Linked DNA regions of Homo sapiens. The gene in region 1 interacts genetically with each later gene. Each region holds a gene or a part of one and is shown on either strand. Other genes may lie near its edges. The genes, in order: ARIH2, SLC39A9, SEC24C, SEC23IP, CTBP1 and ACACA.

Evidence for each region.
Region 2: changes in ARIH2 (region 1) and SLC39A9 together harm fitness more than expected from each alone (negative genetic interaction), as found in Homo sapiens cells (one large-scale study listed by BioGRID).
Region 3: changes in ARIH2 (region 1) and SEC24C together harm fitness more than expected from each alone (negative genetic interaction), as found in Homo sapiens cells (one large-scale study listed by BioGRID).
Region 4: changes in ARIH2 (region 1) and SEC23IP together harm fitness less than expected from each alone (positive genetic interaction), as found in Homo sapiens cells (one large-scale study listed by BioGRID).
Region 5: changes in ARIH2 (region 1) and CTBP1 together harm fitness less than expected from each alone (positive genetic interaction), as found in Homo sapiens cells (one large-scale study listed by BioGRID).
Region 6: changes in ARIH2 (region 1) and ACACA together harm fitness less than expected from each alone (positive genetic interaction), as found in Homo sapiens cells (one large-scale study listed by BioGRID).

What each region holds. Positions count from the first base shown.
Region 1 is NC_000003.12:48,970,342-48,975,494, forward strand, and holds part of ARIH2 (E3 ubiquitin-protein ligase ARIH2), read left to right. Parts: intron 1-253; coding exon 254-363; exon of another isoform or gene 364-500; intron 501-3,357; coding exon 3,358-3,475; intron 3,476-4,323; exon of another isoform or gene 4,324-4,475; coding exon 4,476-4,526; intron 4,527-4,616; coding exon 4,617-4,638; coding exon of another isoform or gene 4,639-4,707; intron 4,708-5,153.
Region 2 is NC_000014.9:69,435,920-69,441,072, forward strand, and holds part of SLC39A9 (zinc transporter ZIP9), read left to right. Parts: intron 1-5,153. UniProt on the Homo sapiens protein: Transports zinc ions across cell and organelle membranes into the cytoplasm and regulates intracellular zinc homeostasis. Participates in the zinc ions efflux out of the secretory compartments.
Region 3 is NC_000010.11:73,760,476-73,765,628, reverse strand, and holds part of SEC24C (protein transport protein Sec24C), read right to left. Parts: intron 4,917-5,153; coding exon 4,780-4,916; intron 3,532-4,779; coding exon of another isoform or gene 3,463-3,531; intron 2,140-3,462; coding exon 2,028-2,139; intron 1,774-2,027; coding exon 1,646-1,773; intron 179-1,645; coding exon 40-178; intron 1-39. UniProt on the Homo sapiens protein: Component of the coat protein complex II (COPII) which promotes the formation of transport vesicles from the endoplasmic reticulum (ER).
Region 4 is NC_000010.11:119,919,438-119,924,590, forward strand, and holds part of SEC23IP (SEC23-interacting protein), read left to right. Parts: intron 1-6; coding exon 7-159; intron 160-1,451; coding exon 1,452-1,547; intron 1,548-5,153. UniProt on the Homo sapiens protein: Plays a role in the organization of endoplasmic reticulum exit sites. Specifically binds to phosphatidylinositol 3-phosphate (PI(3)P), phosphatidylinositol 4-phosphate (PI(4)P) and phosphatidylinositol 5-phosphate (PI(5)P).
Region 5 is NC_000004.12:1,214,602-1,219,754, reverse strand, and holds part of CTBP1 (C-terminal-binding protein 1), read left to right. Parts: intron 1-1,163; exon of another isoform or gene 1,164-3,549; coding exon 3,550-3,764; exon of another isoform or gene 3,765-3,796; intron 3,797-4,064; exon of another isoform or gene 4,065-4,209; intron 4,210-5,153. UniProt on the Homo sapiens protein: Corepressor targeting diverse transcription regulators such as GLIS2 or BCL6. Has dehydrogenase activity. Involved in controlling the equilibrium between tubular and stacked structures in the Golgi complex.
Region 6 is NC_000017.11:37,259,386-37,264,538, reverse strand, and holds part of ACACA (acetyl-CoA carboxylase 1), read left to right. Parts: intron 1-644; coding exon 645-854; intron 855-5,008; coding exon 5,009-5,153. UniProt on the Homo sapiens protein: Cytosolic enzyme that catalyzes the carboxylation of acetyl-CoA to malonyl-CoA, the first and rate-limiting step of de novo fatty acid biosynthesis.

The DNA.
Region 1 (5,153 bases):
CCACTATGCCTGGTGCAATTCTATATAAACTTAGATCATTCCAGTGAGTTGCTACCTGGTTTAAGCTAAACGTTCTAAATTCCTCTTTAATATCTGGCTTACGTTTGGTCTTCACATCCTTTCTGAATTTATATAGCCCCTTCGTATAAGTCATCAGCTGGGAGAACAGAAAGTGTTTGAATATTCAGGGGGTTCTGATTTTTAGACAGCAACTAAGAGATGTCCTCATTGTTTCCTCTTGGTGTGTTCACAGAGTCATTACCAGCTCCAGCTGTGCCCTGGTGCAGACTGCCCCATGGTTATTCGGGTACAGGAGCCTAGAGCTCGCCGAGTACAGTGCAATCGGTGCAACGAGGTCTTCTGGTAAGAGTGAGTGTGAGTGCTGAGCAGCCCTGGGCTCATGCCCCATCCTCCAAAGCACCACTGCTGTTGCTCCATGTGAGGGCGGCACTGGAAGAGGCAGGGTCTCTGAGCCAACAGAACAGCTGTGCTCCAAGTGGGTAGGTTTATGTCCAGCATCTCATATTCCACTAGGTCTTCAATACATGCTCAGTCTGGAGGCAAGGAAGTGACACAGGTTCTTGGAAAATGTGTTGTGGCTTATGCTACTAGGTCTCATGGCCCAGAGATTGTGTGGGATGTATCTGCCTGCATAGCTAATCACATATTACTGTGTTTGAAAGATATAAACTTGAACATTTTAATCTTTCTCTGTCTTGGCCTTACTTGGCTAATTTTTGTTAAACTAAGTCATAAATATATTCTACATCTACTCAAGGTTCACTTCATTCAGTAGATACCATGGGAATAACTAAAGTTTACCGAAGGCTTACCAGGTGACAGGCACTATCCTGATCACTTACCCTGCATTATCACAACTGTATATGACCCTTATATTCTCTCTTTTTTTGTTGTTTTCTTGAGACGGAGTCTTTCTCTGTAGCCCAGGCTGGAGTGCAGTGGCACATACTTGGCTCACCACAACCTCCGCCTTCCAGGTTCAAGTGATTCTCCTGCCTCAGCCTCCTGAGTAGCTGGGACTACAGGCATGTGCCACCATGCCCAGCTAATTTTTGTATTTTTAGTAGAGACAGGGTTTCACTGTGTTGGCCAGGCTGGTCTCAAACTCCTGACCTCGTGATCTGCCCGCCTTGGGCTCCCAAAGTGCTGGGATTACAGGATTGAGCCAACCGCGCCTAGCCATGACCCTTATATTCTATGAATAAATCAAGGTACAAGGTAAACCTAGTAAATCGTAGAGCCATAATTTAGGCCCAGATCTGTCCTAATCATACCTCCCTGGAATATTCATGGTGGGGCTTCAGAGAAACTACATGGAAAATGTGATGTGTGTGTGTACGCACATGCCTGCATTTCAAGACATTATTGACACCAAAGGTTAAGAATCACTAATGCAGTGGTTCTTTCATTTTAAATCCGGCAGCCCCCAGGATCACAGCAGATTCAGAAGACTCCTTGTAATTGTTCTTTATCCTTGTGTCCCACTTTATGAAATTCTTTCCCTGGGTATTTGCCTGAGGGCCTTTTCTAGCCACAAAGTACTGTTGGCCTCCACAAAAGAAAATTTCAAAATATGGAAGCCTAGCCCGACGAATATTGGAGTGTCTTTTTTTTCTGTTTTAAGTTTCAGTGTCATCAGATGTATCATGACCCTACAGATTTTGCACGTTCTGGCATTTGTGCATTCTTGTGTGCATATCTGACTGGGAGATCCGATGAGACTCCCGGAAGTGGGTCTCAATCCTGCCTTAGGTCTGAGCTAAGGAGTCCTTCTCAGAGCACCTCACCATGCCCTTTGAGAGTCATAGCTCTGTGTTTGACATCTTGGGAGTTGGTAAACAAGATGTTTAAACAAGGTATTTAACATACATATCATAGCTCACTGCAGCCTCAAACCCCTGGGATGAAGTGATCCTTCTGCCTTAGCCTCCCAAGTAACTGAAACTACAGATGCCCAGCTAATTTTTTTAAATTTGTTGTAGGGGCCAAGTGTGGTGGCTCACACCTGTGACCCCAGCTTTAGGACCCCTGTGACTTTAGGAGACTGAGGCGGGTGGATCACCTAAGGTCAGGAGTTCCAAGACTAGCCTGGCCAACATGGTGAAATCATGTCTCTACTAAAGATACAAAAATTAGCCAGGAATAGTGGCAGGAGCCTGTAATCTCAGCTAGTCAGGAGGCTGAGGCAGGAAAATCACTTGAACCAGGGAGGCAGAGGCTGCAGTGAGCCAAGATCATGCCATTGCACTCCAGCCTGGGTGACAAGAGCGAAACTCCATTTCAGAAAAAAAATTGTAGAGACAGGGTCTTCCTATGTTGCCTAGGTTGGTTGGTCTCAAACTCCTGGTCTAAAGCAATCCTTTTTTTAAAAAACAGGGTCTCTCTCAGTTGTCCACGTTGCAGTACAGTGATGCGAACACAGCTCACTGCAGCCTTGACCTCCAGAGCTCAGGCAAATCCTCCTGCCTTAGACTCTCTAGTAGCTGGGACTACAGACACATAGCACTACACCTGGCTAATTTTTTCATTTTTTGTAGAGATGGGATCTCACCATATTGCCCAGGCTGGTTTCAAACTCCTGGGCTCAAGCAGTCCTCCCATCTCAACCTTCCATAGTGCTAGGATTACAAGCATGAATCACTGCACTCGGCCTACAGAAATATTTTATTTGTGCGTGTTAGAGCATGTCTTACAAAGGCTTAAGTTGAAGAGACATTCATGCAGTATTTCAGTATAACTCTGGGTAGGTAAAGGTTCCACAAGCCTTGAGAGATAACTTTACCTATTTGAAAAGCTCTAGGCCGGGCACAGTGGCCCACGCCTGTAATCCCAGCACTTTGGGAGGCTGAGGCGGGCAGATCTCGAGGTCAAGAGATCAAGACTATCCTGGCCAACATGGTGAAACCCCATCTCTACTAAAAATACAAAAATTAGACTGGGCGCGGTGGCTCACGCCTGTAATCCCAGCACTTTGGGAGGCCGAGGTGGGTGGATCACGAGGTCAGGAGATCGAGACCATCCTGGCTAACACGGTGAAACCCCGTCTCTACTAAAAATACAAAAAATTAGCCGGGCATGGTGGCGGGCACCTGTAGTCCCAACTACTCGGGAGGTTGAGTCAGGAGAATGGCATGAACCCGGGAGGCAGAGCTTGCAGTGAACCGAGATCACGCCACTACACTCCAGCCTGGCGACAGAGCAAGACTCTGTCTCAAAAAAAAAAAAAAAAAGAAAAAAGCTCTAATTCATGATTTGTTGGCTTGGATAAAAGGAAAATTTTGAACATGGGACCCTGACTTAATGAATATTTGAATGTTTTTCTTTTCCAATTTTAAGTTTCAAGTGTCGTCAGATGTATCACGCACCCACAGACTGTGCCACAATCCGGAAATGGCTCACGAAGTGTGCAGACGACTCTGAAACAGCCAACTACATTAGTGCTCACACTAAAGACGTAAGGACCGTATTTTACCTCTCATGGATTTGCCCTCCTTAGTGCTGCCCAGGGCCTTGCCTTGGAGATTTGCCATCTGAGAGCAGAATACCCAGAGCCCCAGGACCCTTCCTGAGGACTGGGGGTTTGGGGACCCTCACACAGAGTTGGCAGCTCGTAGCAGTTTATTATAGGATGCATTGGGTGCATATTTTCTTTATTATGATGAAATGCCAAAATGCCAGGAAAGGGGGACCCAAAGGGGGAGCTAATTAGAAGAGAACTAATTATGATTGAACGCCTACCAGCCTTTAACAGCCCTGAAAGGGAGGTGGTTAATAGCCACACTTGATACATATAAGGCTGTAATGCAAGCCCAGACCTGCACGATACTCATTTTGAAGTCTCCCATGGGAAAGTATGGCCTGTGGGCTCTAGGGGCCACTGTACCCTTTGTCAGTCACTCGCCGAGTCAGTGCACTCACAAGCACAGTTACGATAACGACATTATTAAACATAGTCGACTTCACGGCAGTGGGAGATCACAGCATCAGACTGGTGTCTTCATTGCTGCCTCAGGTTGCTGGCATCTCTCAAATGGGAGAGATGAGCTTTAGATGTGGTTTCCTTGCCCTCTTCTCGAAGCAGAAGTTCAGGCAAGCTGACCAGGACTGAATCCATTGTGGCAGCTCCTGTGCTTCTTTGGCAGTCCTCTCAAGAAGGCAGGCTTTCTGCTGATTCAACTTGTGCTTAATCTGAGTAGCTTCATGGCAGGGGCAGATGGTGGAAGACTTAGTGGGGTTCAGCTGGTGCTTGAAGCATTTCAAAGCTAAATGTGCTGACCTCATTTCCTTGAATTGCTGTTCCAGCCTCAGCGACCTGCCACATTTAAGTGAGGTGCTCCTCCCCAGAAGTGCTCACACCATGAGCAACTGGGCACAGGTGCCAGGAGCTTTGTGTAATTTGTCTTAAAACCAACCTGGTGGTGTGTGAGCCTAATGGCACCCTTCTGTCTCCTCAGTGTCCCAAGTGCAACATCTGCATTGAGAAGAATGGAGGCTGCAATCACATGGTGAGCAGAAGCCTCTGCAGTTTGCATGTGTGACATGGAAGCTTTGGTCAGTGTGCCCTTAACGTGTTTTCTTCTGTTTCCCTCTGACAGCAATGCTCCAAATGTAAACACGGTGAGTTCCAAGCTTGGTGTGTAAGGCCCAGTGGCACTTTCTTGTGGTTGGGTCTCCGTTACTATTTAAGTGAGTACTTCTGCCATGAAATGACAAAACATAGAAGAACCTCAGTCACTTAACAGTCACAGTAACTGGCATAAAGTAGCTTTTTATTTTTATTTTCTGTTTTTTGGTCCCTCTTATAATCCCACTGCTATCTTGCTAACACATATAGTCAGAAGTCAAGTTTGGGATAAACCTCATGATCCTCAGTTATCCAAGAAGATGATTTCAGGGTGTTGCTTTCATTTTTTTGCCAAGGCAGGTAAGTAGCTTGGGGCTTATCTGTGCTACGTTGTAGATACCTTTACCAGAAGTAGTAAAATAATGGTTTTCCCTTGCCGTTTTACAAAGTTTCTAGTGGGGGTTTTGATTTAGCCTTTCAGACCTCCTTCATCCATCAGGAATAATTTACATAGCTAGAACCCATGTATGCCATCCGGCCAGGTCAACTGAAGAAACAGAATCCCTTC
Region 2 (5,153 bases), on another chromosome or scaffold:
GCCTTGGCCTCCAAAAGTGCTGGGATTATAGGCGTGAGCCACTGTGCCCAGCCATTTCCAGTCTATTATTGATCTCATCCAGTGAATTTACTACTTTAGATATTATATTTTTCAGTTCTAAAATTTCCAGTTCGTTTCTTTTTATAAGTGTCTGTTTCTCTGCTGAGGATGTTCATTTATTTGAGGAATTTTTACCTTTCGGCCAGGCGCAGTGGCTCACGCCTGTAATCCCAGCACTTTGGGAAGCTCAGGTGGGGGAGGATCACTTGAGTATAGGAGTTCCAGACCAGCCTGGGCAACATAGCAAGACCCTGTCTCTATTTTTTAAAAATTATTTTTCCAAAAGTATGTTATTTTTAGCTTAGAGAACATAGTTAGAGTAGCTGCTTTAAGTAAGTCTTTGAATGTTCCAGTATCTGAGTGATCTGTGGGTTGGGTTGATTGTCTTTTCCCTCGGTAATTGGTCAAAATTTCCTGTTTCTTTGTATGTCAAATAACTTTTGGTTGTATGCTGGACATTTTGAATATGATAACTTGAGAATCTGAGTCCCGTCAAAATCTCTGGAGAATGTTTATTTCTTTTGTTTTAGCAGGAAGTTAACCTATTTAGATTCAGCCTAAAAGTTCTGTTTTGTTTTTGTTTTTTGTTTTTTGGATGATGGTTCTCATTTTAGCTGAGTTTTCAAAGCCTTTACAATGCTGCTTTGGCTATGTCCTGTGTATACTGAGTTCAGGGGTGAGCCTGGGACTTGTGCCGTTTATACATAGGATTAAAGAACCCCTCTCTCAGCTCTTTCCTCTCCAGTGTTCCTTCCACATTGTTTTGCAAACAGACCCCATTTTCCTGGTCCTCTGTCAAGAAAGACAAGGTTTCTCTATAGAGCTGTGGCTGCATGCAACACTACATGTGTTGCCACCACATAGTTCCATGTGACTTGGGCTTCTATCAAAAGAAAGTAACAGCAGAAAAGGCAGAACAGCATAACCAGGTTTCCCCCATACACTTCAGACCACTGGGATCCCTTGCTAGCTCCGCCTCCCGGGTTCATGCCATTCTCCTGCCTCAGCCTCCCGAGTAGCTGGGACTACAGGTGCCTGCCACCACACCCGGCTAATTTTTTGTATTTTTAGTAGAGACGGGGTTTCACCATGTTAGCCAGGATGGTCTTGATCTTCTGACCTCATGATCCACCTGCCTCGGCCTCCCAAAGTGCTGGGATTACAAGCGTGAGCCACCGCGCCCGGCCTGGGATCCCTTTTTCTATTTGCTCTGGCCAGAAAGATGGGGTTTTAACTGCCTTTGTTGCCACCATGCAGTTCTGCAACTGGGGCTGCCTTAAAGGCAGGACCAGGAAAGAAAAAAGAGGAGGTAGAGAAAAAAAGGGGAGACTTTCCTGTACTTCACTACCTCTTAGCAACCTCTTTTCCTGGTCCTTTGGCCGGAAAGACAGGGTTTTTCTAGAAGTTTTTGCTGCCTTGCCTTCACTTGCTGTTGTTTACTTTTTGTAGTCCTGAAGTAGTTGTTTTTTGGTGTGTTTTGTCCAGTTTTTGTTGTAATCAGTGGGTGATTGACGTCAAAATGCTCTTACTGTAACATGGCCAGCATCAGATGTCTCCAACATTCCTTTTAAAATGTAAAATGTTAATACCTCTGTTAAAGAAGTTTTTTTGTTTGTTTTTTTTTTTTTGAGACGGAGTCTCACTCTGTCGCCCAGGCTGGAGTGCAGTGGCACCATCTCAGCTCATTGCACCCTCCACCTCCCGGGTTCAAGCAGTTCTCTGCCTCAGCCTCCCAAGTAACTGGGATTATAGGTGCCTGCCATCATGCCCAGCTAATTTTTGTATTTTTAATAGAGATGGGTTTCACCATCTTGGCCAGGCTGGTCTTGAACTCCTGACCTCGTGATCCACCTGCCTCAACCTCCCAAAGTGCTGGGAAGAGTAACTCAAAAAAATCTGTGAAGTAACTTAACCATGATATTACCTTTCAGCTAAGCTGTCTCCAGATTTTTTACATCTTTCTTCATACTGATGAGTTTAGACATATCATTGTAATTTTGTTTTTGCTGCTTTACTCTCTCTTTTCTTACCCTCTTCCCTTACCCTTTTTTTTTTTTTTGAGACAGAGTTTTGCTCTTGTCACCCAGGCTGGAGTGCAGTGACACCATCTCGGCTCACTGCAACCACCGCCTCCTGGGTTGAAGTGATTCTCCTGCCTCAGCCTCCCTAGTAGTTGGGATTACAGGCACCTGCCACTAGGCATAGCTAATTTTTGTATTTTAGCAGAGACGGGGTTTCACCATGTTGGCCAGGCTGGTCTTGAACAACTGACCTTAGGTGATCCACCTGCCTTGGCCGCCCAAAGTGCTGGGATTACAGGCATGAGCCACCGCGCCTGACCCCCCTCTTTCTTTATTGTAGACCAAAACAACTTTTCTTCGTACTTCAAGAAAGACGTTTGTATACATGTTACTACAGCCTATGGTTTCGTTCTTCTGTGGACCTTATAATTATAATACATTGTTTTCAGAACTCAGTATATCATGTTAACTAAGTGCTCTGATGCTTTAATAAGCATTATTAAATACTAATTAATGTAAAAAGGAACCTCTTACTCTTCTGTAATTATAGCTCTAAAATCACTGGAATTAGATGATTATCAGCTTTCACGTAAAAAAAAACTGTCTATAGAAACAAGTTTTAAGAACTTCAAAGATTGTTGGGTAATGCAGCACTTTACTGTGCAGCCAAAATTTGAAAACATCTCAAAATTCTTTGGACTGTTAGAATTGGTATGTTTAGGAAGGTAGACTATTGGGTCAAAGATGAAAATATAAATGTGATGTATTGTCAAAACTGCTATTGTCAGCCATGGCTCAATGTAGATTATCCCACTCATTTTTATCAGTTCTGTAAGAATGCCATGTATCAGATTCTTTATAGAGGTATGATTAACTGTGGCTTTTTCTGTCACTTTACTCTACATTAAATAAAATATAGGGGGCCCTAGCCAGAACAGTCAGGCAGACAAAAAAGATAGAAGGCATTCACATTGGAAAGGAAGAAGTAAAGTTGTCTCTGTTTTCAGGTGAGATGATCTTATGCATAGAAATACCTAAGGATTCCACACACAAAAAAATTAGAACTAATAAACAAATGCAGTTAAGTTGCAGGATACAAAATCAGCATACAAATATCAGTTGCATTTTTATACACTAACAATGAACTATTTGAAAAAGAAACTATGAAAACAATTTCATTCATAATAGCATCAGAGGGGGAGGGAAAGCATTAGGAGATATACCTAATGTAAATGAGGAGTTAATGGGTGCAGCACACCAACATGGCACATGTATACATATGTAACAAACCTACACGTTGCGCACATGTACCCTAGAACTTAAAGTATAATTTTTAAAAAAATAATAATAGCATCAGAAAATAAAATAAAATAAAATACTTGGGCATAAATTTAACCAAGGAGGTAAAAGATCTATATGCTGAAAACTATAAAACATTGATTTAAAAAATTGGAGAAAATATAAGTAAGGTATTCTGTGTTCATGAATTGGAAGAATTAATATTGTTAAAATATCCGTAGTACCCAAAGTGATCTACAGATTTAATGCAACCCCTATCATAATTCCAGTGGCATTTGCTATGGTTTGGATATTTGTCCCCTCCACATCTAGTGTTGAAACTTGATCCCAGTGTTGGAGGCGGGGCCTGGTGGGAGGTGTTTGGGTCATGAGGGTGGATCCGTCATGCACATATTGGTGCTATCCCCTTGCTGATGAGTGAGTTCTCCCTCTATAATTTAACAAGAGAACTGGTTGTTTAAAAGAGCATGGCACCCCTCCCCTCTCTCGTCTTGTGAAATACTGACTCCTCTTCCCCTTCTGCAATGATTGGAAGCTTCCTGAGATCCTCAGATTCGTGCTTCTTGGACAGCCTGCAGAACTGTAAGCCAAATAAACCTTAATAGAACGATCCTAAAATTCATATGTAACCACAAAAGGCCCTGAAGCCGGGGTAATTTATAAAGGTCAATTAAAGAGGTTTAGTTGACTCACAGTTCAGCATGGCTGGGGAGGCCTCAGGAAACTTACAATCGTGGCGGAAAGCAAAGGGGAAGCAAGGCACCTTCTTCACAAGGCCGCGGGAAGGAGAAGTGCTAAATGAAGAGGGGAAGGGCCCCTTAAAAACCATCAGATCTTGCAAGAACTCACCATGTAGTACACCTGTAAACCCAGCTACTCGGGAGGCTGAAGCATGAGAACCACTTGAACCCTGGAGGCACAGGGTTGCAGTGAGCCGATATCATGCCACTGCACTCCAACCTGGGTACAGAGTGAGACTCTGTCTCAAAAACATAAGAATAGTGTCAGGCACGGTGGCTCAAGCCTGTAACCCCAGCACTTTGGGAGGTCAAGGTGGGCGGATCACTTGAGCTCAGGAGTTTGAGACCAGCCTGGGCAACATGGCAAAACTACATCTCCACAAAAACAATATAAAAATTAGCAGGACTTGGTAGCTCACATCTGTAGTCCAGATTCTTGGGGGACTGAGGTAGGAGGATGACTTCAGTCCAGGAAATGGAGGTTACTGTAAGCTGAGATTGCACCACTGTAGTCTAGTCTGGGTGAAAGGGCCATACCTGTCTCAAAAAGAAAGAAAGAGAGAGAGACAGAGAAAGAAACAGAAGAGTACATTGTAACTGTTGTAAGGTTGGATATTATTTTGTGAAACTGTTTTGTTTTGTTTTGTTTTTTTGAGACAGAGTCTCCCTCTGTTGCCAGGCTGGAAGGCAGTGGCGTGATCTCGGCTCACTGCAACCTCCGACTCCCTGGTTCAAGCGATTCTCCTGCCTCAGCCTCCTGAGTAGCTGGGATTACAGGCACGCGCCACCGTGCCCAGCTAGTTTTTGTATTTTTAGTAGAGACGGGGATTCACCATGTTGGCCTTGATCTCCTGGCCTCGTGATCTGCCCCCCTTGGCCTCCCAAAGTACTACGATTACAGGCATGAGCCATTGCACCTGGCCTGTTTTGTTTTGTTTTTAAGAGACAGGATCTCTAGGCTGGACACAGTGGCTCATACTTGTAATCCACCACTTTGGGAGGTCAAGGTGGGAGGATCACCTGAGCCCCAGAT
Region 3 (5,153 bases), on another chromosome or scaffold:
TCAAGACCTTCCCCCAAATCCCAGCTTCCATGAACATACCATCATTGATACAGCTGCAAAAACAGCACTGGAAACGCCTCCCTCCTTCAATGAACTGCATGAAGGGACACATGTATGCTTTGCAGCGGTTGCAGCGCAAAGGGCCAGATTCCCCATGGTCCACAACATACGGTGAAGCCTAAGGCGCAAAGGGGAAGGGATCAGACATAAAGGAAAACCACAGTAGGTTCAGCCAGGAGATGAGGAAGAACAACCGGAGGAAGAAGGCGCATGGCGCAGATATTCTGTCTGCAGAGGGAGTAGGGAGCACAATGATGAAAGGGAGTAAAGACAAATCACAGGAAAATGTCCCTATGAGTAAAAATTATATAGTTCCCTCTTCCTACATCCCACCCCCAGAGCTGCATTTCTCACTGAAAGAGAAGAGGAAATGCAAAACCGGCCATATCAGACTAGGGGCTGCCATGGGCATATGAGGGAGAAAGCCAAGATTATCTAGGATTCTCCTTTCTGGCCCCATCTCTAATGCCCTTCACTCTTGCTCTAAGAATCTTGATTCCAGCTCCTTCCCTAACCAAATATCTGTAACACCTCCTCCCGTATCCCTGGGATTCTGTGCCAGTTACTGATGCCCCAGGCAAATGTCACCCTACACATAAGAGACCAGTGCCCAACTATCCCCAATGGGACCCAGATAGAAATAGACAAACACACAGAGAAAGACGGAGAGATAAGCAGAATATAAACTGAGCCTTTGGCTTCTAGTAACAGAGAACCCTATCGTAAGATAAGCAAGGCTGAATATGAGTATCCTACCAAGGCCTGGTGGAGCAGCTGCCTGGCTCGCTCTCTTCATGCTGGTATCAGGTACTGGGGTGACAGATCAGGTCCCAAAACAGGTGACAGAAGGATCACTGGATCCTAATCTACCTTTTCTCTTATATGCTGTTCTAACAGCACTAACCTGGGATGACAGGACAGTCAGGAAAACATGGAATGATGTCCTTCTCATCATCTGGAGATGACCATGATACGAGAGGTTCCTACATTCAGCTGTCTTCTCCCCTACAATTTGGCCCTACCTCTTGTTTTTTTTTTTTTTTTTGAGACAGAGTCTCGCTCTGTTGCCCAGGCTGGAGTGCAGTGGTGCAATCTCGCCTCACTGCAAGCTCTGCCTCCCGGGTTCACGCCATTCTCCTGCCTCAGTCTCCCAAGTAGCTGGGACTACAGGCGCCCGCCACCACGCCCGGCTAATTTTTTGTATTTTTCATAGAGACGGGGTTTCACCGTGTTAGCCAGGATGGTCTTGATCTCCTGTCCTCGTGATCCACCCGCCTCAGCCTCCCAAAGTGCTGGGATTACAGGCGTGAGCCACTGCGCCTGGCCTGGCCCTACCTCTTTTCATCCTGCTTGTTTCCTCTAGAGACTCTGTTCCTTCTCAGCAATGTCTTGGGCTTTTGCTCTCATCCCTACCATCCCCTCTCCAGGCATGGGCCCTGGGATAGAAAGCCACTAAAGACAGTCTCCTCTCCTGCCTAACTAAAATATCTTCCATTGTGAAGCTGGAATCACATCCAGGAAGACGCTTTAGACCCCTCTCTACCTCCCTCCCTTTCATTACACTCTAGCCCCTTCCCTGACTCACCTCCTCTGGGGGCAGCCTTGCCAGCGGTTTGATGACTGCTGCCAGGGGCACCTGAGCCTGCTTAGCCATGTCAGATGTGCAAGGGATATTATAGGATGTACATCGGATGTATCGGGGACTTGCATTCCCTGAAGAAGGAGGCAGAAGACCCGAGTCAGATCACAGAATCCTTCCAGACACCAGCTCTCCATTGGTGATCCACACCATCAACTCCACAAAGCTAGAGGTGATGGTGGCTTTTTCCCCCAGAGGGACTAGAGGGAACTTGTCTCTGGTTAAAAACTAAAAAAAAAAAAAAAAAAAAAAAAAAAAAAAAGCCCCAACCATAAGCTGATAATCTTGAAGAAAAAGCCCCTGTGGGAGGAGCTAATTCCATTCTCACCTTGGTCTTTCACCAGGAAGTTGGTAGTGACTAAGGGTGGCACCTGGCCCCGTACTCCAGTAACAAATGGCTCTGTACCCCGGTTGTTCCTGTCATCTTCAATGACCTGAATCTGCAGAGAAGTGCAATGAATGAGGTGACAGAAGAAAAAGGAAGTGTGAGGTCCCAGAGTGCCAAGAGTGAAAAAGGCTAGAGCTGTAACACAAAAACTAAAAATTTGCCAAGGAACACCTCATACACCAGGCCTGTTCTCCTTCTGGAGATCATATAAAATGCTGTAATGCCAATCTTACACTCTACAGCAGCCAATCTTTCACTCCCAGCAGCCTGCTGGGCAGGCAACATGAGAATGGGCTTCTTTATGAATTGCCCCCTACCCCCCATCAATGGTGAACACCCTCTCATTCCTCCCATTCCAGGAAAAGCCCCAGCTCTGATCACAAACCTTCAAACATGATTAGATTCCATTCCCCTCCCCCATCATGCCTTCCCCGATCCTCTCCCCAAGACACATTCTGAGTCAGAGCAGGAAAACAGACAACAGTAACCACGTAAAAATGAATCTACCTGGAATGACTCTACACTCAATGAAATTACAAGGGACAGGGTGAGGAGAGATTTAAACAGCCAGAAATGATCAAGTAAGGTGAGGAAGCAGATGCTGCCTTACTTTCAGGTAAGCATCAATGTGTATATATAGGAGGAGAGGAGAAGTACCCAATCCTTATAGCTCAATCCTCAGTCCTCCACATTTTGACAGACTCAGCAAAGGAAAATAAAGGACCTGCAAAGCTGGTATTCAGACCTTTATGCAGGCTAATGACCTTTGGTCAGTTACTTCAAGATGGGTTTGGAAAACCAGAAAAAGCAAAGGGCAAATAAGACTCTATCCCATAGCAGAAAGGTTGAAGCTTAGAAATATATCAGAGTCAAAAAGACTCTTCAGATGAGAAAGCACCCACACTTTCCCAAACCAGCAGTCCCTTCTCCTGTAAGAAATGCCAGTTTGGGATACTATGAATCTGTACATTCCTACTCCAATATTTCTCCACAACAGGCTACAGACAAATCAAATCCAAAGTGGAATGATCTACCGTTCAACTTTGTCCTCTTCCATCATACATCACCTGCAGGCTCCTGGAGGTGCCAGCAGAACTAAAGCCAAAGCTTGACATGCCACCTGACCCCACCCTTAGAGCCTGACCTTCCACCACCCCATACTCAAGGCAAACAGCTTGCTACCTCTTCATTACCTGGTGACTTGAGGCATGCATATCCTTTTATCTTGTATAAGTGAGTATCTAGAAGGGCTAGGCTAAAGGAAGAGAATGGGGAGGAATGGACATGGTAGATGAGGTGAAGATGAGGTCACAGGCATGCATGGATGGCACTAACACAGGAATGACATGCACAAACACCCACCCCCTGCACTTACTGGACTAGGAATGGCATCGGGGTCTATTCTGTGCCTGGTTTTCTGCTGAGGAGGCAGCTCACTGAGTTGCTTTTAGTGTTTTAATAATAAATGCAGCAGGGGAATACAAGGAGGGAGACAAAAGAACAAGAGGCAGATGTTACTTCTCTCAACCCTGTTGAGTTAGACATGAACAGCTGGAGCCCAGCTCATATTGCTGAAATCAAGCCCCCTCTAGATATGAAATTCCAAGTCTTTCTGGCCCAACACAGAGGCTTTAATGGCTCAGACTATGATGTAGAAAGATAAGGAAAGGGGCAAACAGGAGGCAAGCAGGAGTTACACAGGGAGGGGCTGAGGCTGAATGGAAGAAACCTTAAGGAAGAAGAAGAGGAGTGTTCCCCCTAAAAGGCCAAACCTCCCATTCTAAGGACTATCTTATGCTGAAAGAAGCCTCCCTTCATGTCCAACCAGACTCTCCTTCTCACTGAAGGAGGGGGAAGGAAGGAGAGGCTGCTTAATCCTCTTGAGTTCTCCTTGGCCAACAGGCTCCCTCACTGTGTTGGTTACCCAAAGGAGGAAGAGGGACGAGAACAGAATGGAATATGACAATGGCTAAGCATGGCAAGGTAACTGACATAGCAAATGTTACAGGTGGAACTATAAAGTGGCCCCTACTTGGCAGTACAGTCCTAGTCTCTATTCTGAGTCTGATAAGGAGGGCCTGAGGATTCTGATGGCTCCAAGGGTGCAATTCACCCTCTTCCTGAAAAAAGCAGCTCTCCAGTGGGACTTTACATACACACTGCCCTCATAAACTGTCGTTCACTCTTCCCCATCCACACAGCAGAAGCCTACCAAACAAAAGTACTGGGGACTTCCTCCTAAAACTGTCCAAGTAAGAGCAGAGAAACCAGTGAGGCTTTCCTTCTCTTAACATCTAACATCAGAGAATTCCCACCTGCTCTACCCATTAGGAAGAATGCCATCCTTCTAGATCTAAGGGGACAAGACCCAGTCACTGCTCCACAGAAGGACAAAGGCTACTATACTATGTATGTACAGTAGTGACAGAGTGCAGCCCTCAGACATCTACTGGTGCTGCTGCTCACTCTTGGTTTCCCTTCCTTCTCTGCCCAGCTATAGAGTAAAACAGCCCCCCAAAAGACTCCTAGAACCTCAAGTTCCAGTTCAGAATCAAATTATATGTAAGTTCTCCAAGAAGATGAACAAAAAGGGAAAATTATCAGAAAATGCTAGGCAAACATTTCATCTAGATTGACCTGCCTATCTGGCAGACACAAACCCTTCCTCAGGACCATGAAAGTTTCTACTTACAGGGCTTGGGATGGCATCAGGGTCCAGGCGCTTAGGAGGCAGTGGCTGAGGAGGCCCAGGCTGACTGCCAAAGGTGGGTGCTGCTGGGTAGGGGCCTCCATAATTAGACTGAGGGCCCCGGGCTGGTCCGAAGGAACCTGAGACAAGGACACAAGGTTGATGAACTCAAAATCCCATCCCTATCTCTTCTTAAGGCCTCAGGAAAATGACTAGACTCCTAAAAACATAGAATTATGAGGCACACTAATGCCTGGCAAAGACATTCAGAAAAATACCATGTTATCAGAACGACAAGAAAAAATAATGTCTTACAAACCCCATATCCTAGGAATAATACCCTGAAGCTACCCATCTAATTCACCACTTAGCAAGTA
Region 4 (5,153 bases), on another chromosome or scaffold:
TTAAAGATGCCTGAAGAGCCAAAGCTGACTTTGGATGAGTCGTATGACCTTGTTGTTGAAAATAAAGAAGTCCTAACTTTGCAAGAAACTCTGGAAGCACTTAGCCTCTCTGAATATTTTAGCACTTTTGAAAAGGAAAAGATTGATATGGAGTCCCTGGTACTGATCATAGTTTGCTTCATTTTGTTTGAAATTGTTTTTCTTGTGTAGATTGAAAATTAAGAATAAACATTTTCGTATCAAAATACACTCCAGAGTAGACAAAGACTGAAATGTTTTAAAAAATTGAAAAACACAGAAGAATATTTTTTTATAATCTGAAAGGCTTTTCTGAGTATGATGCAAAATCCAGAAGCCATCAAAGAAAAAAATTGTATAACAGTAGACACCATAAACAACATCTAAAGGCCAGTGATACATTTGCAACACACATTATAGACAGAGGGCTTACTTCATTGATTTTCAAAGCTTCTACAAATCAGTTACAGAAAGACCATCACATCAGTGTGATATGTAAATAGGCAAAGAATATAAACATGATTTACAGAAAAGGAAATAACAAATGGTGTCTTCGCATATGAAAACTCATAAGAGAAATGGAAATTGAAAGTACAATGGGATTTTTTTTAACTTACCAGTTTGAAAAAATAGGAAGTTTGAAAATATGCTATGTGGCCAGGGTGAAGGGAACTAGGCATTGTTATATATTGTTGGTCAGACTGTAAAATATTACAAACTCTTTGGAAGGCAGTTTGGCAATATCTTTAAGAATATAAAAATTACCCTTTGCTTCATCAGTTTCATTGCCAGGAATATTTCCTATAGAGAAATATTCAAACAAGAATTATCTACAAGGATACTCACAGCAGTGTTTGCAAGGTAACAAAACATTAGAGACACCATTGGTGTTGAGGAGTAGGGTGCTAGTGAAATCATTTATGGTGCATCCGCATAACGGAGTACCCTACAGCTGTTGAATGAATGATGCAGTGTCAGAGATACCCGTCTCTAAGGTACATTTACATGAAGAGAGCAGAGTTCATTACTGTGTGCATAGTAGAGCACACACACAGAGAAAAACATGTAAGTGCTATGCATACATAAGACATCGCTTCAAAGAGAGCAAGTTTCCACAGTTGCGCTGAGAGGAGAATTCTATGTTTGGGACAGCAGTGGGAGGAAGATATTTCATCGTATGCTTGACTATAGCTTTGGAATTTTGTATACCATATGTGTATTTTCTGTTAATTAATAGAATGATTTAGGTGTGGAAGCCTAAGATTTTATAGCCTAAACTGATGCATGATTTAAATACAAAATAACTAACTTGTAAAAAGTTGAGTGGCTCTTAGATTGCTTTAGATGATGTGGTTTCTTTATAATTTTCATATTCTCATTTCAGTTCTTCTATCACTAGATTGATTAATGTGCTTGTCTGTTTCCTTTTAAAGCTTATGTGTACAGTTGATGACCTGAAGGAAATGGGGATACCCCTTGGACCCAGAAAGAAGATAGCTAACTTTGTAGAACATAAAGCAGCCAAACTGGTAAAGTTCACCTCTGACTCAAGAAAAACTAAAACTCATGGTGTGACCAGCTCGTTTATATTATAGAAAATTTTAATACTACTATGGTTAGGTAAGCTAGTTTGCTCCCTACCTAGGGCACAGTAATGGAGCTGATGGAAACCCAGACTTAGGAGTCAGAGTTGGGCTTAAGTCCACATTAGGCTAAGTGACCATCCTGGTTTTCCTGGGACTAAGTTCCTAGGATGAAGGGCTTTCAGTTTTAAAATGGATATTTAAGGTTTTCCTGGTGCAAACAGTGGTTAAGTTCTGACAAATAAATTCTCAGCTCAACTGCTCATTAACTGCGTATTAATGAGCAATTTGTATTTGGTTTTATTCATTTGTTTATTTTGAGATGGGATCTTGCTGTGTTTCCCACTGCTGGTCTCAAACTCCTGGGCTCAAGCTATCCTCCCGCCTCAGCCTTCTGATCATGAGTGATTTTCTTAATTTTTCTGATCCTTTGTTTTCTTCATTTCTAAAATGGAATAATACCTTCCTTACAGGATTGGAGTAAGCATGAAATAATGCATGCAAAGCTTAGCACCAAGTAATAGCTCACTTTCTTCCCAGTCCTTACCATCTAAAGAGATGAGGAAAAACATACACACTGAAGTCTTAAACACTAAACAGCAAAAATTGTTAACAATACAAAACAAGGCAACAGCTAAAAAGCATTTAAAACTAGAACAACTGGAAAATATACTTGTTTTATTAATTTTAATTTATTGATCAAATTAATTTTACAGAGGTTTTCTAATTAGAAAAATTAGATGACTCTTAGGGTGGCCGTCTTATTTGTATTGTTATTAACATGCTCTTTGATGATCCTTCCATCTTTTGAATTTCTATGGTTCTATTATTTTACTACCTGTTTGGAACTTAACCTACATCATTTCTTTATATGGGAAATGACTATAAAGTCATAGGACTGATTTTTTTTTTAATGGTTAGCTTAAGGAATTGAGTCTTCTCAGCATTTTATTGAATAGCAGCTACCTCTTTTGAGTCAGGCACTGTGTTCAATTCTTGGGAGCCGGAGATTAACCAAGAGTGTGCTGTCTAGTTGCGGGGAGCACGTTGAGCTCAAATGACAACATACCAGCCCCATAATAGCGTGCTGTGTGTGCTGTCCTGAGGCAGATGAGAGGTGGCAGTTCTGGCTTGTTGAGACAAGCATGGGGTTGGTGAGAGAAGACTTCTCCAAGGTGATGGTGCTTGAGCTTGAAGGAGGGGTAAGGTCAGGGGAGATGGCCTTCTGGAATCTGGCATGTGTTTTCCTGTAGCATCAGGGAAGCTGGAAACTGGGAAGGGCAGAGGGTTCCAAAGGCCCAGGTGGCAGGTGTGGAGGCTTGGATTTTCTCTTGTAAGGGAGTGGTTTTCAAACATGTTCTTATGGCCATGAAAGTCATGGTGTTTTTAAACATTACAAAATGCTGACCTGCTTATTCTATCACAAGTTATGATTTAGCACCAAATCATCTGTGTAGTCTAAATTTTAATTTTAACTTTTGGACTGTGGAGAGTTTGCTTGGTCACAGTGCACAGATGAAGTTGGAAAGGCGTGAAGTGGAGGCGGCTGCAATCTTACATAGTAGTAATTGTAATTGTACAGTGACTGAAAGAGAGATGATAGGGGTATAAGGTAGGAGGTGGAGAGGAAGGGAGCAACTCAAAAGACATTTTAGACATAGACAAGCAGTATTTGATTAAGTGCTGAGAAAGGTTATTAGTTTTGGCAGTTAAGAGGTATCTTTCATGTCATTTTTCTTGTGTGTTGAATCGTTCTGTAATTCCAATTTACAAAGAGCTTTTCATCTCACCTGAGCCTCACAACAACCCTGTGAGTAGATCCCCAGGCTTTTGTCTCTGATGAGCACAATAGTCAAACTGAGACTAGGACACAAGCATGTCAGTGTTGTTTCTGTATACAGGCTGCGTGCTCCATACAGAAAAATGCTTGTCTCCGTGTATACATCAGTGAAGCAAAAGCCTATAAAAAAAAAAACAAAAAAAACAAGAAATGAGAAGCTTTGTGTTCAGGCCCTACACCATGTTCTTAATTTATTCTGTAATGAAAGGGAAAAAAGTAGAAAAGGATTCTATAGTTCTTGAAGAATTTCTAGAAGGAGACTGGTTTATGGACTGCAGTTGCTTAGATATATAAATTATGGCATTATAAGAATGTTTTGAAATGAGCAAAAATCTATAGAGTGATCTTATTTTTTAAATTAAAAGGTAATTGCCTTTGGATGAACCATGAAACTTTCTCAGCTGAGTTGCCATTGATTGCTTTACACTTCTTACAGATAACAAGGTGCTACTAGATCAATACAAAAGTAATATGGTGTGTCCTGTTGATTTACTGTAACTGAAATAATGGGACCAAAATTAGCGATTATTTTATAACAAGGAGATCAAATATTTGTGATATTTGTGACTGTGTGCTTTTTTTTTCTTTTTAAAGCATCTTAGTAATTTTCATTTGAAAAGGAATTGTTTCTAGTGTTGGGGATATTGATAGTCAAGTATGTATATGTTGGTTCCGTTTTTTTTTTTTTGAAAGGGAGTCTTGCTTTGTCTCCCAGGCTGGAGTGCAGTGGCACGATCTCGGCTCACTGCAACCTCTGCCTCCCAGGTTCAAGCCATTCTCCTGCTTCAGCCTCCCAACTAGCTGGGATTATAGGCGTCTGCCACCACACCCAGCTAATTTTTGTATTTTTAGTAGAGATGGGGTTTCACCATGTTGGTCAGGCTGGTCTCAATCTCCTGACCTCAGGTGATCCACCTGCCTTGCCCTCCCAAAGTGCTGGGATTACAGGAGTGAGCCACCACGCCCAGCCTATGTTGGTTCACTTTTAAACACTGTTGGTTCACAGTTTAAAAAGTATTGCAAATTTAACAAAGCAACTCTTGGCAACAGGACAGTTTCTGATCTCCTTAGACAGCTCTCAGCAATTTAGAATGTTTTATGAATTTAACAGGAGGTACTTCTGAGTGAGAAAGCAGATTTAAAGTGAGGAACCCTGAAAATGTTCCTTATTTCGGATTTTAGGCTTAATTTTGTGTTGCCTCCGAAGGGCAGAGATAACCAAGCCTTCTAAAACATTAACGGTGGAAACAGTTACAAGCTGGCTAAGAGTTTTCTTTTTTATAGATTGCCTTTTCAATTAACCAGTTACTTACTTTCCTGATTTCCTGGTGTTTGGAATTAAATAATAAGATCATTTTGGCCAGCTGTGGTTGTTTAGGCACTGTCGATAGCTGTTTAAATCGAGACTAACACTTAGCCATTCACAGCCTAACAAGTCCCCCTCCCACCCAACTGTTTAAATTTCTCTGATGTTATTGTTGCTGCTGTATTCAAGGCAAATTAGAAAACCAGTGTGAATGGCTTTTCTCTCGTTATAGAGATAACACCTTTTTTTTTTTTGAGACGGAGTCCCGCTCTGTTGCTCAGGCTGGAATGCAGTGGCGGATCTCGACTCACTGCAACCTCCGCCTCCCAGGTTCAAGCAATTCTCTTGCCTCAGTCTCCTGAGTAGCTGGATTACAGGCGCGCGCCACCATGCCCGGGTAATTTTT
Region 5 (5,153 bases), on another chromosome or scaffold:
GAAACCAGCCTGGATGGCGTAATGAGACCTGCCTCTGCCAAAAACAGATTCTCTTGAATTTTCTCTTGCACACACTGCTGTGTCATCTGCAGATAAACACAGATTTACATTTTCCTTTCTGATCTCTGTACCTTTTATTTCTTTAATTTCTTTATTTTTGCCTTTTTGCATTAGCTACAATCATCAGCAGCAGTGAGTGTGGGTGTTACCGTGTTGATGTGGGAGAAAAAGTTTCTGACATTTCACCATTAAGTAGGACGTTTCCTGTTGGTCTTTTTGTGGTCTAATTAATTGGTCTGATGTTGAGGCAGCCATCCCAGCTCTTTTGATCAGTGTTTGTGTGGTATGTCTTTTTTCATCCTTTTAATTTTAGCTTATCTCTGTTCTTATATTCATTCATTCAGAGACAAGGTCTTGCTCTGTCACTCGGGCTGGAGTGTGGTGGTGCGGTCACGGCTCACTGCAGCCTTGAGCACTGGGGCTCAAGAGATCCTCTTGCCTTAGCCTCCGAAGTAGTTAGGACTATAGGTGCGTGCCACTGCAATTTTTTTAAATTAATTGTTATTATTATTATTATTATTTTTTGGTAGAGACAAAGTCTTGCTGTGTTGCTCAGGATGGTCTAGAACTCCTGGGCTCAAGTGGTCACCCTGCCTTGGCCTCCCAAAGTGCTGGGATTACGGGTGTGAGCCACGGCGCCTGACTTCTGTCTTTTATGTTTAAAGTGTGTCTGTTATTAATAGTATAGAGTTAGTTCCTCTTTCTTTTTTCAGTCTGACAGTCTTTGCCTCTTGAGTGTTCAGTTCATTTATTTTTAGTGTAATTGCTGATGATTTGGATTTCGGTGTCATCTGGCTACGTGTTTTCTGTTCATCCTTGTTTTTCCTTTCTGGCCTTCTTTTATATTAATCAGGTGTTAAATGATTCCTTGCATCTGTTGTTGCTTTTTAACCTATACTCTGCTTAGTGATCGTGTTTAGTTTTACTTTAGAGATTAGGATACGCCTTCATAACTCACTGCCACCCAGCATAACCTGTGAAGACTCGTCCAGGGCGGCCAGAGGCCCGCGGTGGCTCCTCTCACCCTCGGGCCGATTTTCCACGTCTATTATGCAGAAAACCGTACAAGAAGCTATTAGTCATGAGTCTGTCAAGGAATTTTTCAGTAATTTTTCTTTTGAATATCAACCGACACATCCACCCTTTCTGCCTTGTTTACGCCCCCCGATTCTGGCTGTCCTCGGGCGTCACGTTCCTGTAGCCTAAAGACTGTCTTAGAAATGTGGCTCACCAGTGACCGATTCCTTTTGCTTTTCTTTGTCCGAAAATGTGTTGCCTTTTTTTTTTTTGTGGAAGGTAGTCTCGCTCTGTCGCCCAGTCTGGAGTGCAGTGGCGCGATCTCGGCTCACTGCAGCCTCTGCTTCCCAGGTTCACGCCATTCTCCTGCCTCAGCCTCCCGAGTAGCTTGGACTACAGGCGCCCGCCACCACGTCCGGCTAATTTTTGTATTTTTAGTAGAGACGGGGTTTCACCATGTTGGCCAGGCTGGTCTCGAACTCCTGACCTTGTGATCCGCCCACCTCAGCCTCCCAGAGTGCTGGGATTACAGGCGTCAGCCACCAAGGCCTGTTCTTTAAAATTTATTTTTTAAATTCTTTTCTCTCTGCTTCTGTTTGGATGCCATCTGCTGACTTTGAGCCCCTCCCTTCAAGCTCCCGATCCTTTTCTTGCAGTTAGCTTTGTCCAGGGAGTTCCGTTTCAGAGGGATGTTTTCGTTCTGGAATTTCTATGTGGTTCTTTATAGAGTTACCATTCATCTTCCGGAAGCCTCCATTTTTCTGCTGTTTACATCCACACTTGTTGTCATCTCTGAGCATGTTTATAGTAGTTATTAAGAGGTTTTGCTGGCTGATTCCAGCCTCGGTCATCTGTGCGTCTGTCCGCTTCCAGTGTTTTGTTCTAATTAGAAACTACATCCTCCTGTCTCTTCACCTGCATCATCATAATTTCTTATCCTAAGCCAGACATCATGTGGAAGAGAATGGCAGAGACAGAAGTGAAGAATGGTCTCGCCCCGAACAGCCGCTGCTCTCCCGTGTCAGGCGTGGCCGGCGCCGGCCCGCGGCTTTAGCTGGTTTTCGCCACCGGCAGCCCGACTTCCGGGGCTTTGTGTTGTGCGCAGTGGGAAACAGCGTGTCGTCCGCCTTCTGCGCTGTGGGAGACGCCTTTCTCTGTGTCTGCCTGTGTTCTCTTCCTCCCCATTTGGTGGGATCCCTGGCAGGGGGCGTTGACAGACGGGCTGTTCTGCACCTGGGGAGCTGCCCGGGTACTCCGGCCGTGGCTGCAACCCTCAGAACTGCTGCTCCCACCTCCGCCTGCCGAGCCCTCCTCCCTCCTGCAGCAGCCTCGTCCCTGGGGATGGAAGGAGCCACCATGTTCCTTCTCGTAGAACAGGCGCCTCCCTTTCTAGGATGTAGTGCGTTTAGACGGTCCTCAGCTCTTCTGACTGGCCTCCCAGCCTCCCCCAGTCCTCTTCCCAGAGTGACTGGGGGTCCCCTGGGCGTTTGGGCCACGTCCGGCCACCCTGTGTGCCTGGCGGTCTGGTCTCCTTGGCCCTCAGGCCGCCGCGGGCCCCTCGCACGTGTTGTTCCAGCTCTCTGGCTCCCTTCCTGTCCCCTTATGTCTCCAGCAAGCTTGGTCTTCTCAGGGAGGCCTGCCCTGGCTGCCGCCTTTGAAACTGCGCCCACTTCCCACCCGCCCCGGCGCTCAACCTGCTTCCTTCCTGTGTAGCGGTTCCCTCTGAGGCAATGCAGGAGACACCACGTTCGCGGGCTTGGGGTCCTGTGTCCTTTGCAGCCATGCTGTTGGCTCACAGTGGGCACGAGCACTCTGCAGACCCTTCCCCGAGGAGGAGCCGGCCCCAGCCAGACACGGTGGCTCAAGCTCCACGGCTCCTGTGCTGGGACCCGTGCCAGCCTTGGACTGCTGGGGTGGGGGCAGGCACGTCTGCCTGGGATGGCTTTCTCTGCCGCTCCACTCGAAGGGGTCAGGACCTGAGCCCAGCGGGGCCTCCCTGGTCTGGAAGTTTCCCTCCTGCCCCCTTTGCCGTCTCCACGTAGTGGTGGCTGGAATTGAGATGCCGGAAACATTGATGGGTGGATCGAAAGGCCAGCGGAGGGGCCTGGGCACGGAGGACATGTGTTGGGTGGGTGGAGACCCACTGACCAGTCCGTTTGACACTGAGTGGTTCATGTCACGTCCTGTGGACAGGCTGCAGGGGAGTGGTGTGGCTGGCAGCTGGTGTGGGCCGAGGGGCTAGTGTACCCTTTCCACCCCTGTGCATCTCCTCCGCCTTGGCAGTGGGCGCGTTGGAGCGGACGTGGAGCGCTCGTGTGGAGCGTGCGTGGGCACCTTGGCTTGACCACAGCTGGTGTCATCCTTGGCAGATGGTCAAACTGAGGCACAGAGGCCACTCCGACCCTGGCTTTCGGGGCCGGCCTCCCGGCCACGGGTGAGCAAGGGTCTCACACTGTGTCTTGACGCCACCAGGTCGCGTGGGGCAGGCAGTGGCGCTGCGGGCCAAGGCCTTCGGCTTCAACGTGCTCTTCTACGACCCTTACTTGTCGGATGGCGTGGAGCGGGCGCTGGGGCTGCAGCGTGTCAGCACCCTGCAGGACCTGCTCTTCCACAGCGACTGCGTGACCCTGCACTGCGGCCTCAACGAGCACAACCACCACCTCATCAACGACTTCACCGTCAAGCAGGTGCGTGGAGCCGGGGACACAGGACTCTACTTCTGCGGGGCAGGTACAGGTGGGGGTGTCAGGCAGGTCCCTCCCAGCAGCCATCTGCACCTGGGCAAGACCCTGCCTTCAGCGAGCCACATGGCGGCGGCTGCCAGCCCTGCTGGGGGAAGCCCTGTCTGCCCAGACAGCGTTTTCTGTGTTCTGAGTTCTACTCAGGACATCTAAAATACTCTCTGGACAAGACAGAACCTCATACCTTTGAACACCAAATTCCCCTGAAGCCCTTGCTGTTGTCACAGTGGGGACAGATGCAGCTACCTGGGGGCGTTGGGTCGGCCCTTGTGACTTCCGTGCTGCCAGGTTCAGGTTTCACATCTGCAGCTGGAACGGGCTGTGCTCAGGTCGGCCTCTGACATCTGCAGCTGGAAAGGGCTGTGCTCAGGTCGGCCTCTGACATCTGCAGCTGGAACGGGCTGTGCTCAGGTCGGCCTCTGCCTCAGCACAGCTCGCAGTGCAGCCTCAGCCCTGCGTTCCCCTTGAGTGGGTGGAGCTGGGGATGGCTGCCTCCCGCTGGCTCCAGGCCCTTCAGGGAGTCATCGTGTGTGCACAGTGATGTGTATGTGTGTGGGCAAGTGTGCGTGGGTGCATGTGTCTGCATGTTTGTATGAGCTTGTATGTATGTGCATGTGTGTACACACGTGTCAGAGGCCACCCGCCCACTCTAGCTGCCCCAGCAGCCTGTAGCCACAAGGAGGATGAGGCCAGGTTCCCGCTGCCCCTTCCTTTGTTCACAGAGTCAGTGGGTTTGGAGCCTTCTAGGGGACAGGGTGTGGCACGTGGATGCTGGTCAGAGCCCTGCCGTCCCTGAGGACCTTGGGTGTGAGGCTTTAATGGGCAGCAGTGCACCAAAGAAAAGCCACCGTGACCTGCCCAGCTGTCAGCCAAGCACCGTGGCTGGGTGGACTTCTTGGAATGAAATGGGGGGGCTGCAGGAAAGCCCTGGCCACGAAGCCGAGGGAGAGCCACCCGCAGGGCTTTTTGCAAAAGTGCATGAAAAGCGAGCCTGTTCCGAAGACGGAGGCTCTGCTGCAGGCCCCGCTGGGGTTGGAGTCAAAGACCACGCCTCAGAACAGACGGCCCTGGGCTTTGCCGTCCCAGGGAGTCCCACCTCGTGGGCTGAGGCCCTGCGTGGGGGAGGCTGGGCTGGAGGGGACCCAGAAAAGGGGTACCACAGGGGGACCAAGCCAGGAGCCCCCGCCCAGTCCTCAGCTCAGGGCTTGGGCAGGAGGGTGGAGCTCTCTAGGAGCTGTGGGGCCGTGCAGGTCCATACAGGGCAGATCCTCAGCCAGCCTGTCAGGGCCGCGGTGCAGCACGCCCGAGGCCTTCAGTCCTAGCGCCGTGGTGAGC
Region 6 (5,153 bases), on another chromosome or scaffold:
AATCTACCACCCTCCCCCCTATAAAAGACAGAAAGAGAGAAAATCTTAAACCAGCTGAGGAATAAAGATTACTTTCAAAATAGTAACAATAAGATTGACAGTTGGCATCTCAGTAGAAACAGTGAAAGCTGAAAATCATTGGGATTATTTAAAGTGCTGAGAAAAAAAATAGTTACCATTTTAGAATTCTGTCCCCAACAGTAATATTCTTCAAAACTAAAGATGAAAGTCCTTTGGCTGCAACAATACCATATATGATGTAATGTGAACCAGGAAAGTATCTTGTCTGGAACAAGTTGTACATTTGGTTGTACAGAGTACAGGATGGCAGTATTTTGCCCTGTTGTTGGATTTGTGTATGTGCCTATGTTTTCAAATATTTTGTTGTTTACCTTTGTGATGCACCAGATGTTCGTATGTTTTCATATTTATCAATTAATATTGGTTATGTAAGAATGCAGCATCTTAAAGATATTAAAGATGACAGCATGGACTGTATTTTATTCAGTTTTGTATTTCTGCTGATTAACATGGTTCCTGACACTTCTGGACATCTGCTTGTTGAAATCAAAGTAGCTTATCAAGATAGATAAAAAGTTTAAAATTTAAGAATTGGTTTTTTTTTTCCCCCTTTTCTAATACAGGTTCAAGCTGAAGTTCCTGGATCTCCCATATTTGTGATGAGACTAGCCAAACAATCTCGTCATCTGGAGGTGCAGATCTTAGCGGACCAATATGGCAATGCTATCTCTTTGTTTGGTCGTGATTGCTCTGTACAACGCAGGCATCAGAAGATTATTGAAGAAGCACCTGCTACTATTGCTACTCCAGCAGTATTTGAACACATGGAACAGGTACATATATTAAAAGGCTTACTTTATGTTTTCTTACATAGAACATTTTTCATTCAGTTCATGTACCAATCTGAGAACAATGGCATTTTAAGCAACGATTCTGAATAATTAATAAAATTATATCCTTTTCTTAGAGAAAAAAAATTCTACTGTTCTCCCACTAAGAGAATTGTCAAGGAACATGTCAAGCTTCTAAAAGTAGTTAACGCTTTCTAAAAAAAATCAGCGTACCATTTCAGGATACAGGGATAAAGAAGAGAAATGTTTTGGAATTTTTAATCTTATGATTGATTTTTTTAAGAGGCTCATAATCAGGTAGTTTTATTTGCTGGGTTGAGTATCATCAAGTCTTCAGCTGAATTTAATCAACTCTATTATCGTTTTTGGAAAGTCCTCTAAATATCTTCAGAGTTCACACATTCTATCTTTTTGTATAGAAAGTAGTTTCTCAAAGTCATGAGCGATGCCTTCGGAATAACTATAGTTTAGAGGCCTGAACATAGTCTTTTCTGGAGTCCTAACCCAGTCTCTACATCAAAATAGATTCTTCAAAATATATTTCATGTGTGTTAGAGGTCTATTTCCTATGTTGTGTATATATTAGGATGTACTCTTGAACTGCTGTAATAAAGATGCCTTCAAAATACAGTGGCTTGGCCGGGCATGGTGGCTCTTGCCTGTAATCCTAGCACTTTGGGAGGCTAAGGCGGACAGATCACTTGAGCCCTGGAATTCGAGACCGGCCTGGGCAATATGGTGAAACCCTATCTCTACTAAAAATACAAAAATTAGCTGAGTGTCATGGCACACGTCTGTACTCTCAGCTGCTTGGGAGGCTGAGGTGGGAGGATCACTTGACACTGGGAGGTCAAAGCTGCAGTGAGCCTTGATCATGCTACTGCACTCCAACCTGGGTGACAGAGCAAGACCCCATCTCAAAACAAATAAATAAATAAGCAAAATACGGTGGCTTAAACAAGGTGTAAGTTTCTATTTCTCTTTCATCATAGTTCAGAGATGAGCTGTTACCAGAAACAGGTTTATTGCTCACCTGTTGCCTGTTTTTGTAAATAAAATTTTGTTGGAACACAATGATGCTTATTTATTTATGTGTTATTTATGGCTGCTTTATCACTACAATGGTAGAATTGAATAGTTGTGACAGAGGCTATATGGCCCACAAAATTGAAAATAATTACTATCTGGCTCTTTACCAAAAAAGTTTGCCAAACTTTGCTCTTGGACATTGTCATCTTCATGATTAAGCTAACTCACACAAGATTATGTTCACATTGTGGCCTGTGGGAGGAAGAGACAGGGGATGTGGAGGGCAAGCATATGGAAGCATGATCTTGAAGTCACATACATCACTTCTGCTCACATTCCACTGGACAAAATTCAGTTACACAATTATACCTAGCACAAAGGATGTTAGGAATTGTGATCACTAACTGGGTGACCATGTGCTCAGCAAAAATTTCGATTTTATTCCTAAAATGATGAAGTAGAGAAAAGTCACTGGAGGGCATTTCATAATCTGTGCCTCAGTCTGTTCCTCTGGCTACCTATTATCCCTTTATCCTTTTTCCTACTTTCAGAGCACACATAGCCTTTGTCCAAGGAAGACAACCTGAAGCCCCATCCAGTTACTAGTAACTGGATGGGTTATTACTGGAGGTGATTCCGGATCTCTATATGATGTATATTCTTCTCCATTAGATATGTATTGTGGCTTTTCATGGGCCAGTGACTCAAAATACAAGTTATTTACCCAGTATTATATCCCCTGCCTTCACCATACACCCATATACAATGATGGAATAGGAACAGGATAACTCTCATTTGGAAAAATGAAAAATACATAGCAATCGTTGGTCCATAGCAGTTATCAAATCCTCCTTTTTAGGTAGGAATTGCAATGATTCCCTGCTATATAATAGAATACTACCTCAGTTAGACCTGGCTGTCCCTGGTTCTGCTACTGCACACTCCAGAGAAGTGCAATAAGGGAGTAAATCCCTTGTTCATTGTCCTTCAAGACACCTGACATTGTTTTCTGGGAAGTTCTTCCTCATTCAGTTTTCTCTGTGAGTTGGGCTTTGGAGACTATGCCTTCTTTGGCAGAACTTTCACAACCCACTTCCTGCTGGTGCAGGATTGAGGGCACAAATATCCCAATCATCAGTCGCAGGCTTTTGAAGGCCAGGTTTGTGGTTTGTTTAGAAATACAATTCCTTCAAATACTTAACTAAGCTTCTGGGCTATTTGCTTGCAATCAGCTTTGGGTTGGATTAATCATACTCATAGATTTCTTCTAGATATAGAAACTTTTCTTCTATTATTTACTGGCTTCTGTGCTTAGCCTATCTCTCTTGCCTTGATTTAATATTGGCTATCTTGGGGCCAGCTGAAACTAAAGCAGCACGTTTGATCTTTGACACTGAGTTGCTTCAGGGTGATAATCTCATTTTCTGTTTGGGGGGATACAAAAGAAGTTGGCTTTTTCGACACTCTGACCCTTTCAGACCATCTTTTTTAAGGTTTAGTTGGTGTGTGGTCAGTATCCCAAGTTATTGTAGGAAACAGTTTACCAAATGTTGTGTTATCCCAACAAGGAGATTATCACCTTTCCAGCCTGCAGTATCTGTTTCTCTGCTACCCACTACCCTTTTGCTAAGCTAGCATCTCATATTTTAATATTTTTAAACAGCAACATTCTACCTGCACTTAATAATTCCTGTATCGATTAGGATACAGGTTAAACTGCTATAACAAAAAGGTCCAAAAAACACAGCGGACCCCCCCAAAAATAGAAGTTTATTTTTCTCTCCCATCCTAGTCTGAGGTGAGCTTTTCAGGGCTGGTGGAAGTGTTTTATTCCACGAGACCATCTTGGGATTCAGGTTCATTCTTTCTTTTCTTTTTCTTTCTTTTCTTTTCCTTTCTTTTCTTGGTGTTCTTAGTGTGTTCTCATTTGCATGATTGAAGTTGGCTTATACTATCATGACTATGTTCCAATGAATAAGAAGGAAAAAGCCAGGAATAGAGAATGAGACATTTCCTTTTCAAAATATGACTTAGGGCTGGGTGCTGTGGCTCACGCCTATAATCCCAGCACTTTAGGAGGCTGAGGTGGGCGGATCACCTGAGATCAAGAGTTCGAGACCAGCCTGGCCAACATGATGAAAACCCATCTCTACTAAAGATATAAAAATTAGCCTGACATGGTGGCATGTGCCTGTGATCCCAGCTACTCAGGAGGCTGAGGTAGGAGAATCACTTGAATCCGAGAGGCGGAGGTTACAGTGAGCCGAGATTGCGCCACTGTGCTCCATCCTGGGTGGGTGACAAAGCGAGACTCCATCTCCAAAAAAAAAAAAAAAAAAAATATATATATATATATATATATATATATATATATATATATATATATATGACTTGGGAGTTATGCATATCACTTACCAATGCTGGTGTCCTGTTTGTCAAAACTTAGCCACTAACCAGGCCAGGCATGGTGGCTCACGCCTGTAATCCCAGCACTTTGGTAGGCCAAGGCGAGTAGATCACTTGAGGTCAGGAGTTTGAGACCAGGCTGGCCAACATGGGGAAACCCCATCTCTACCAAAAATACAAAAATTAGCCAGGCATGGTGGCGCATGCCTGTAATCTCAGCTACTTGGGGGGCTGAGGCAGGAGAATCACTTGAACCCGGGAGGCAGAGTTTGCAGTGAGCCACGAGATTGTGCCACTGGACTCCAGCCCAGGAGACAGAGTGAGACTCTGTCTCAAAAAAAAAAAAAAAAATCTAGTCTCTAACTAGTTAGCTATGTTTCTAGGAAGAAGAGGAGCATATTGGAAATACTGGAAACTGGACAAGAGTCTGTCCCCATGTTTTTTTGTCTGCATGCATTTATGTCTGGTGGGGTGAGGTTGCTTTTGATGCAAAGTGAAAAATGCTCTTTTCTCCCGATTTTTCATTGAGTTTTTCATCCTTGTCCAGGGATATTGTATAATAATCAGAAATGTGCTCTCATGTGGCTAAAAGCTTTTGATGGCTCTTATACACACTGAACAGTTGAGTCAGTGAGAGGCTGTAGTGGTCTAGCAGTTGGATAAGGTGAGATACTTATGTTTGCTTATCTCTCTTCTTTGAGTGTGCGGTGAAACTTGCCAAAATGGTGGGTTATGTGAGTGCTGGGACTGTGGAATACCTGTACAGCCAGGATGGCAGCTTCTACTTTCTGGAATTGAATCCTCGGCTGCAGGTAGAGCACCCTTGTACAGAGATGGTGGCTGATG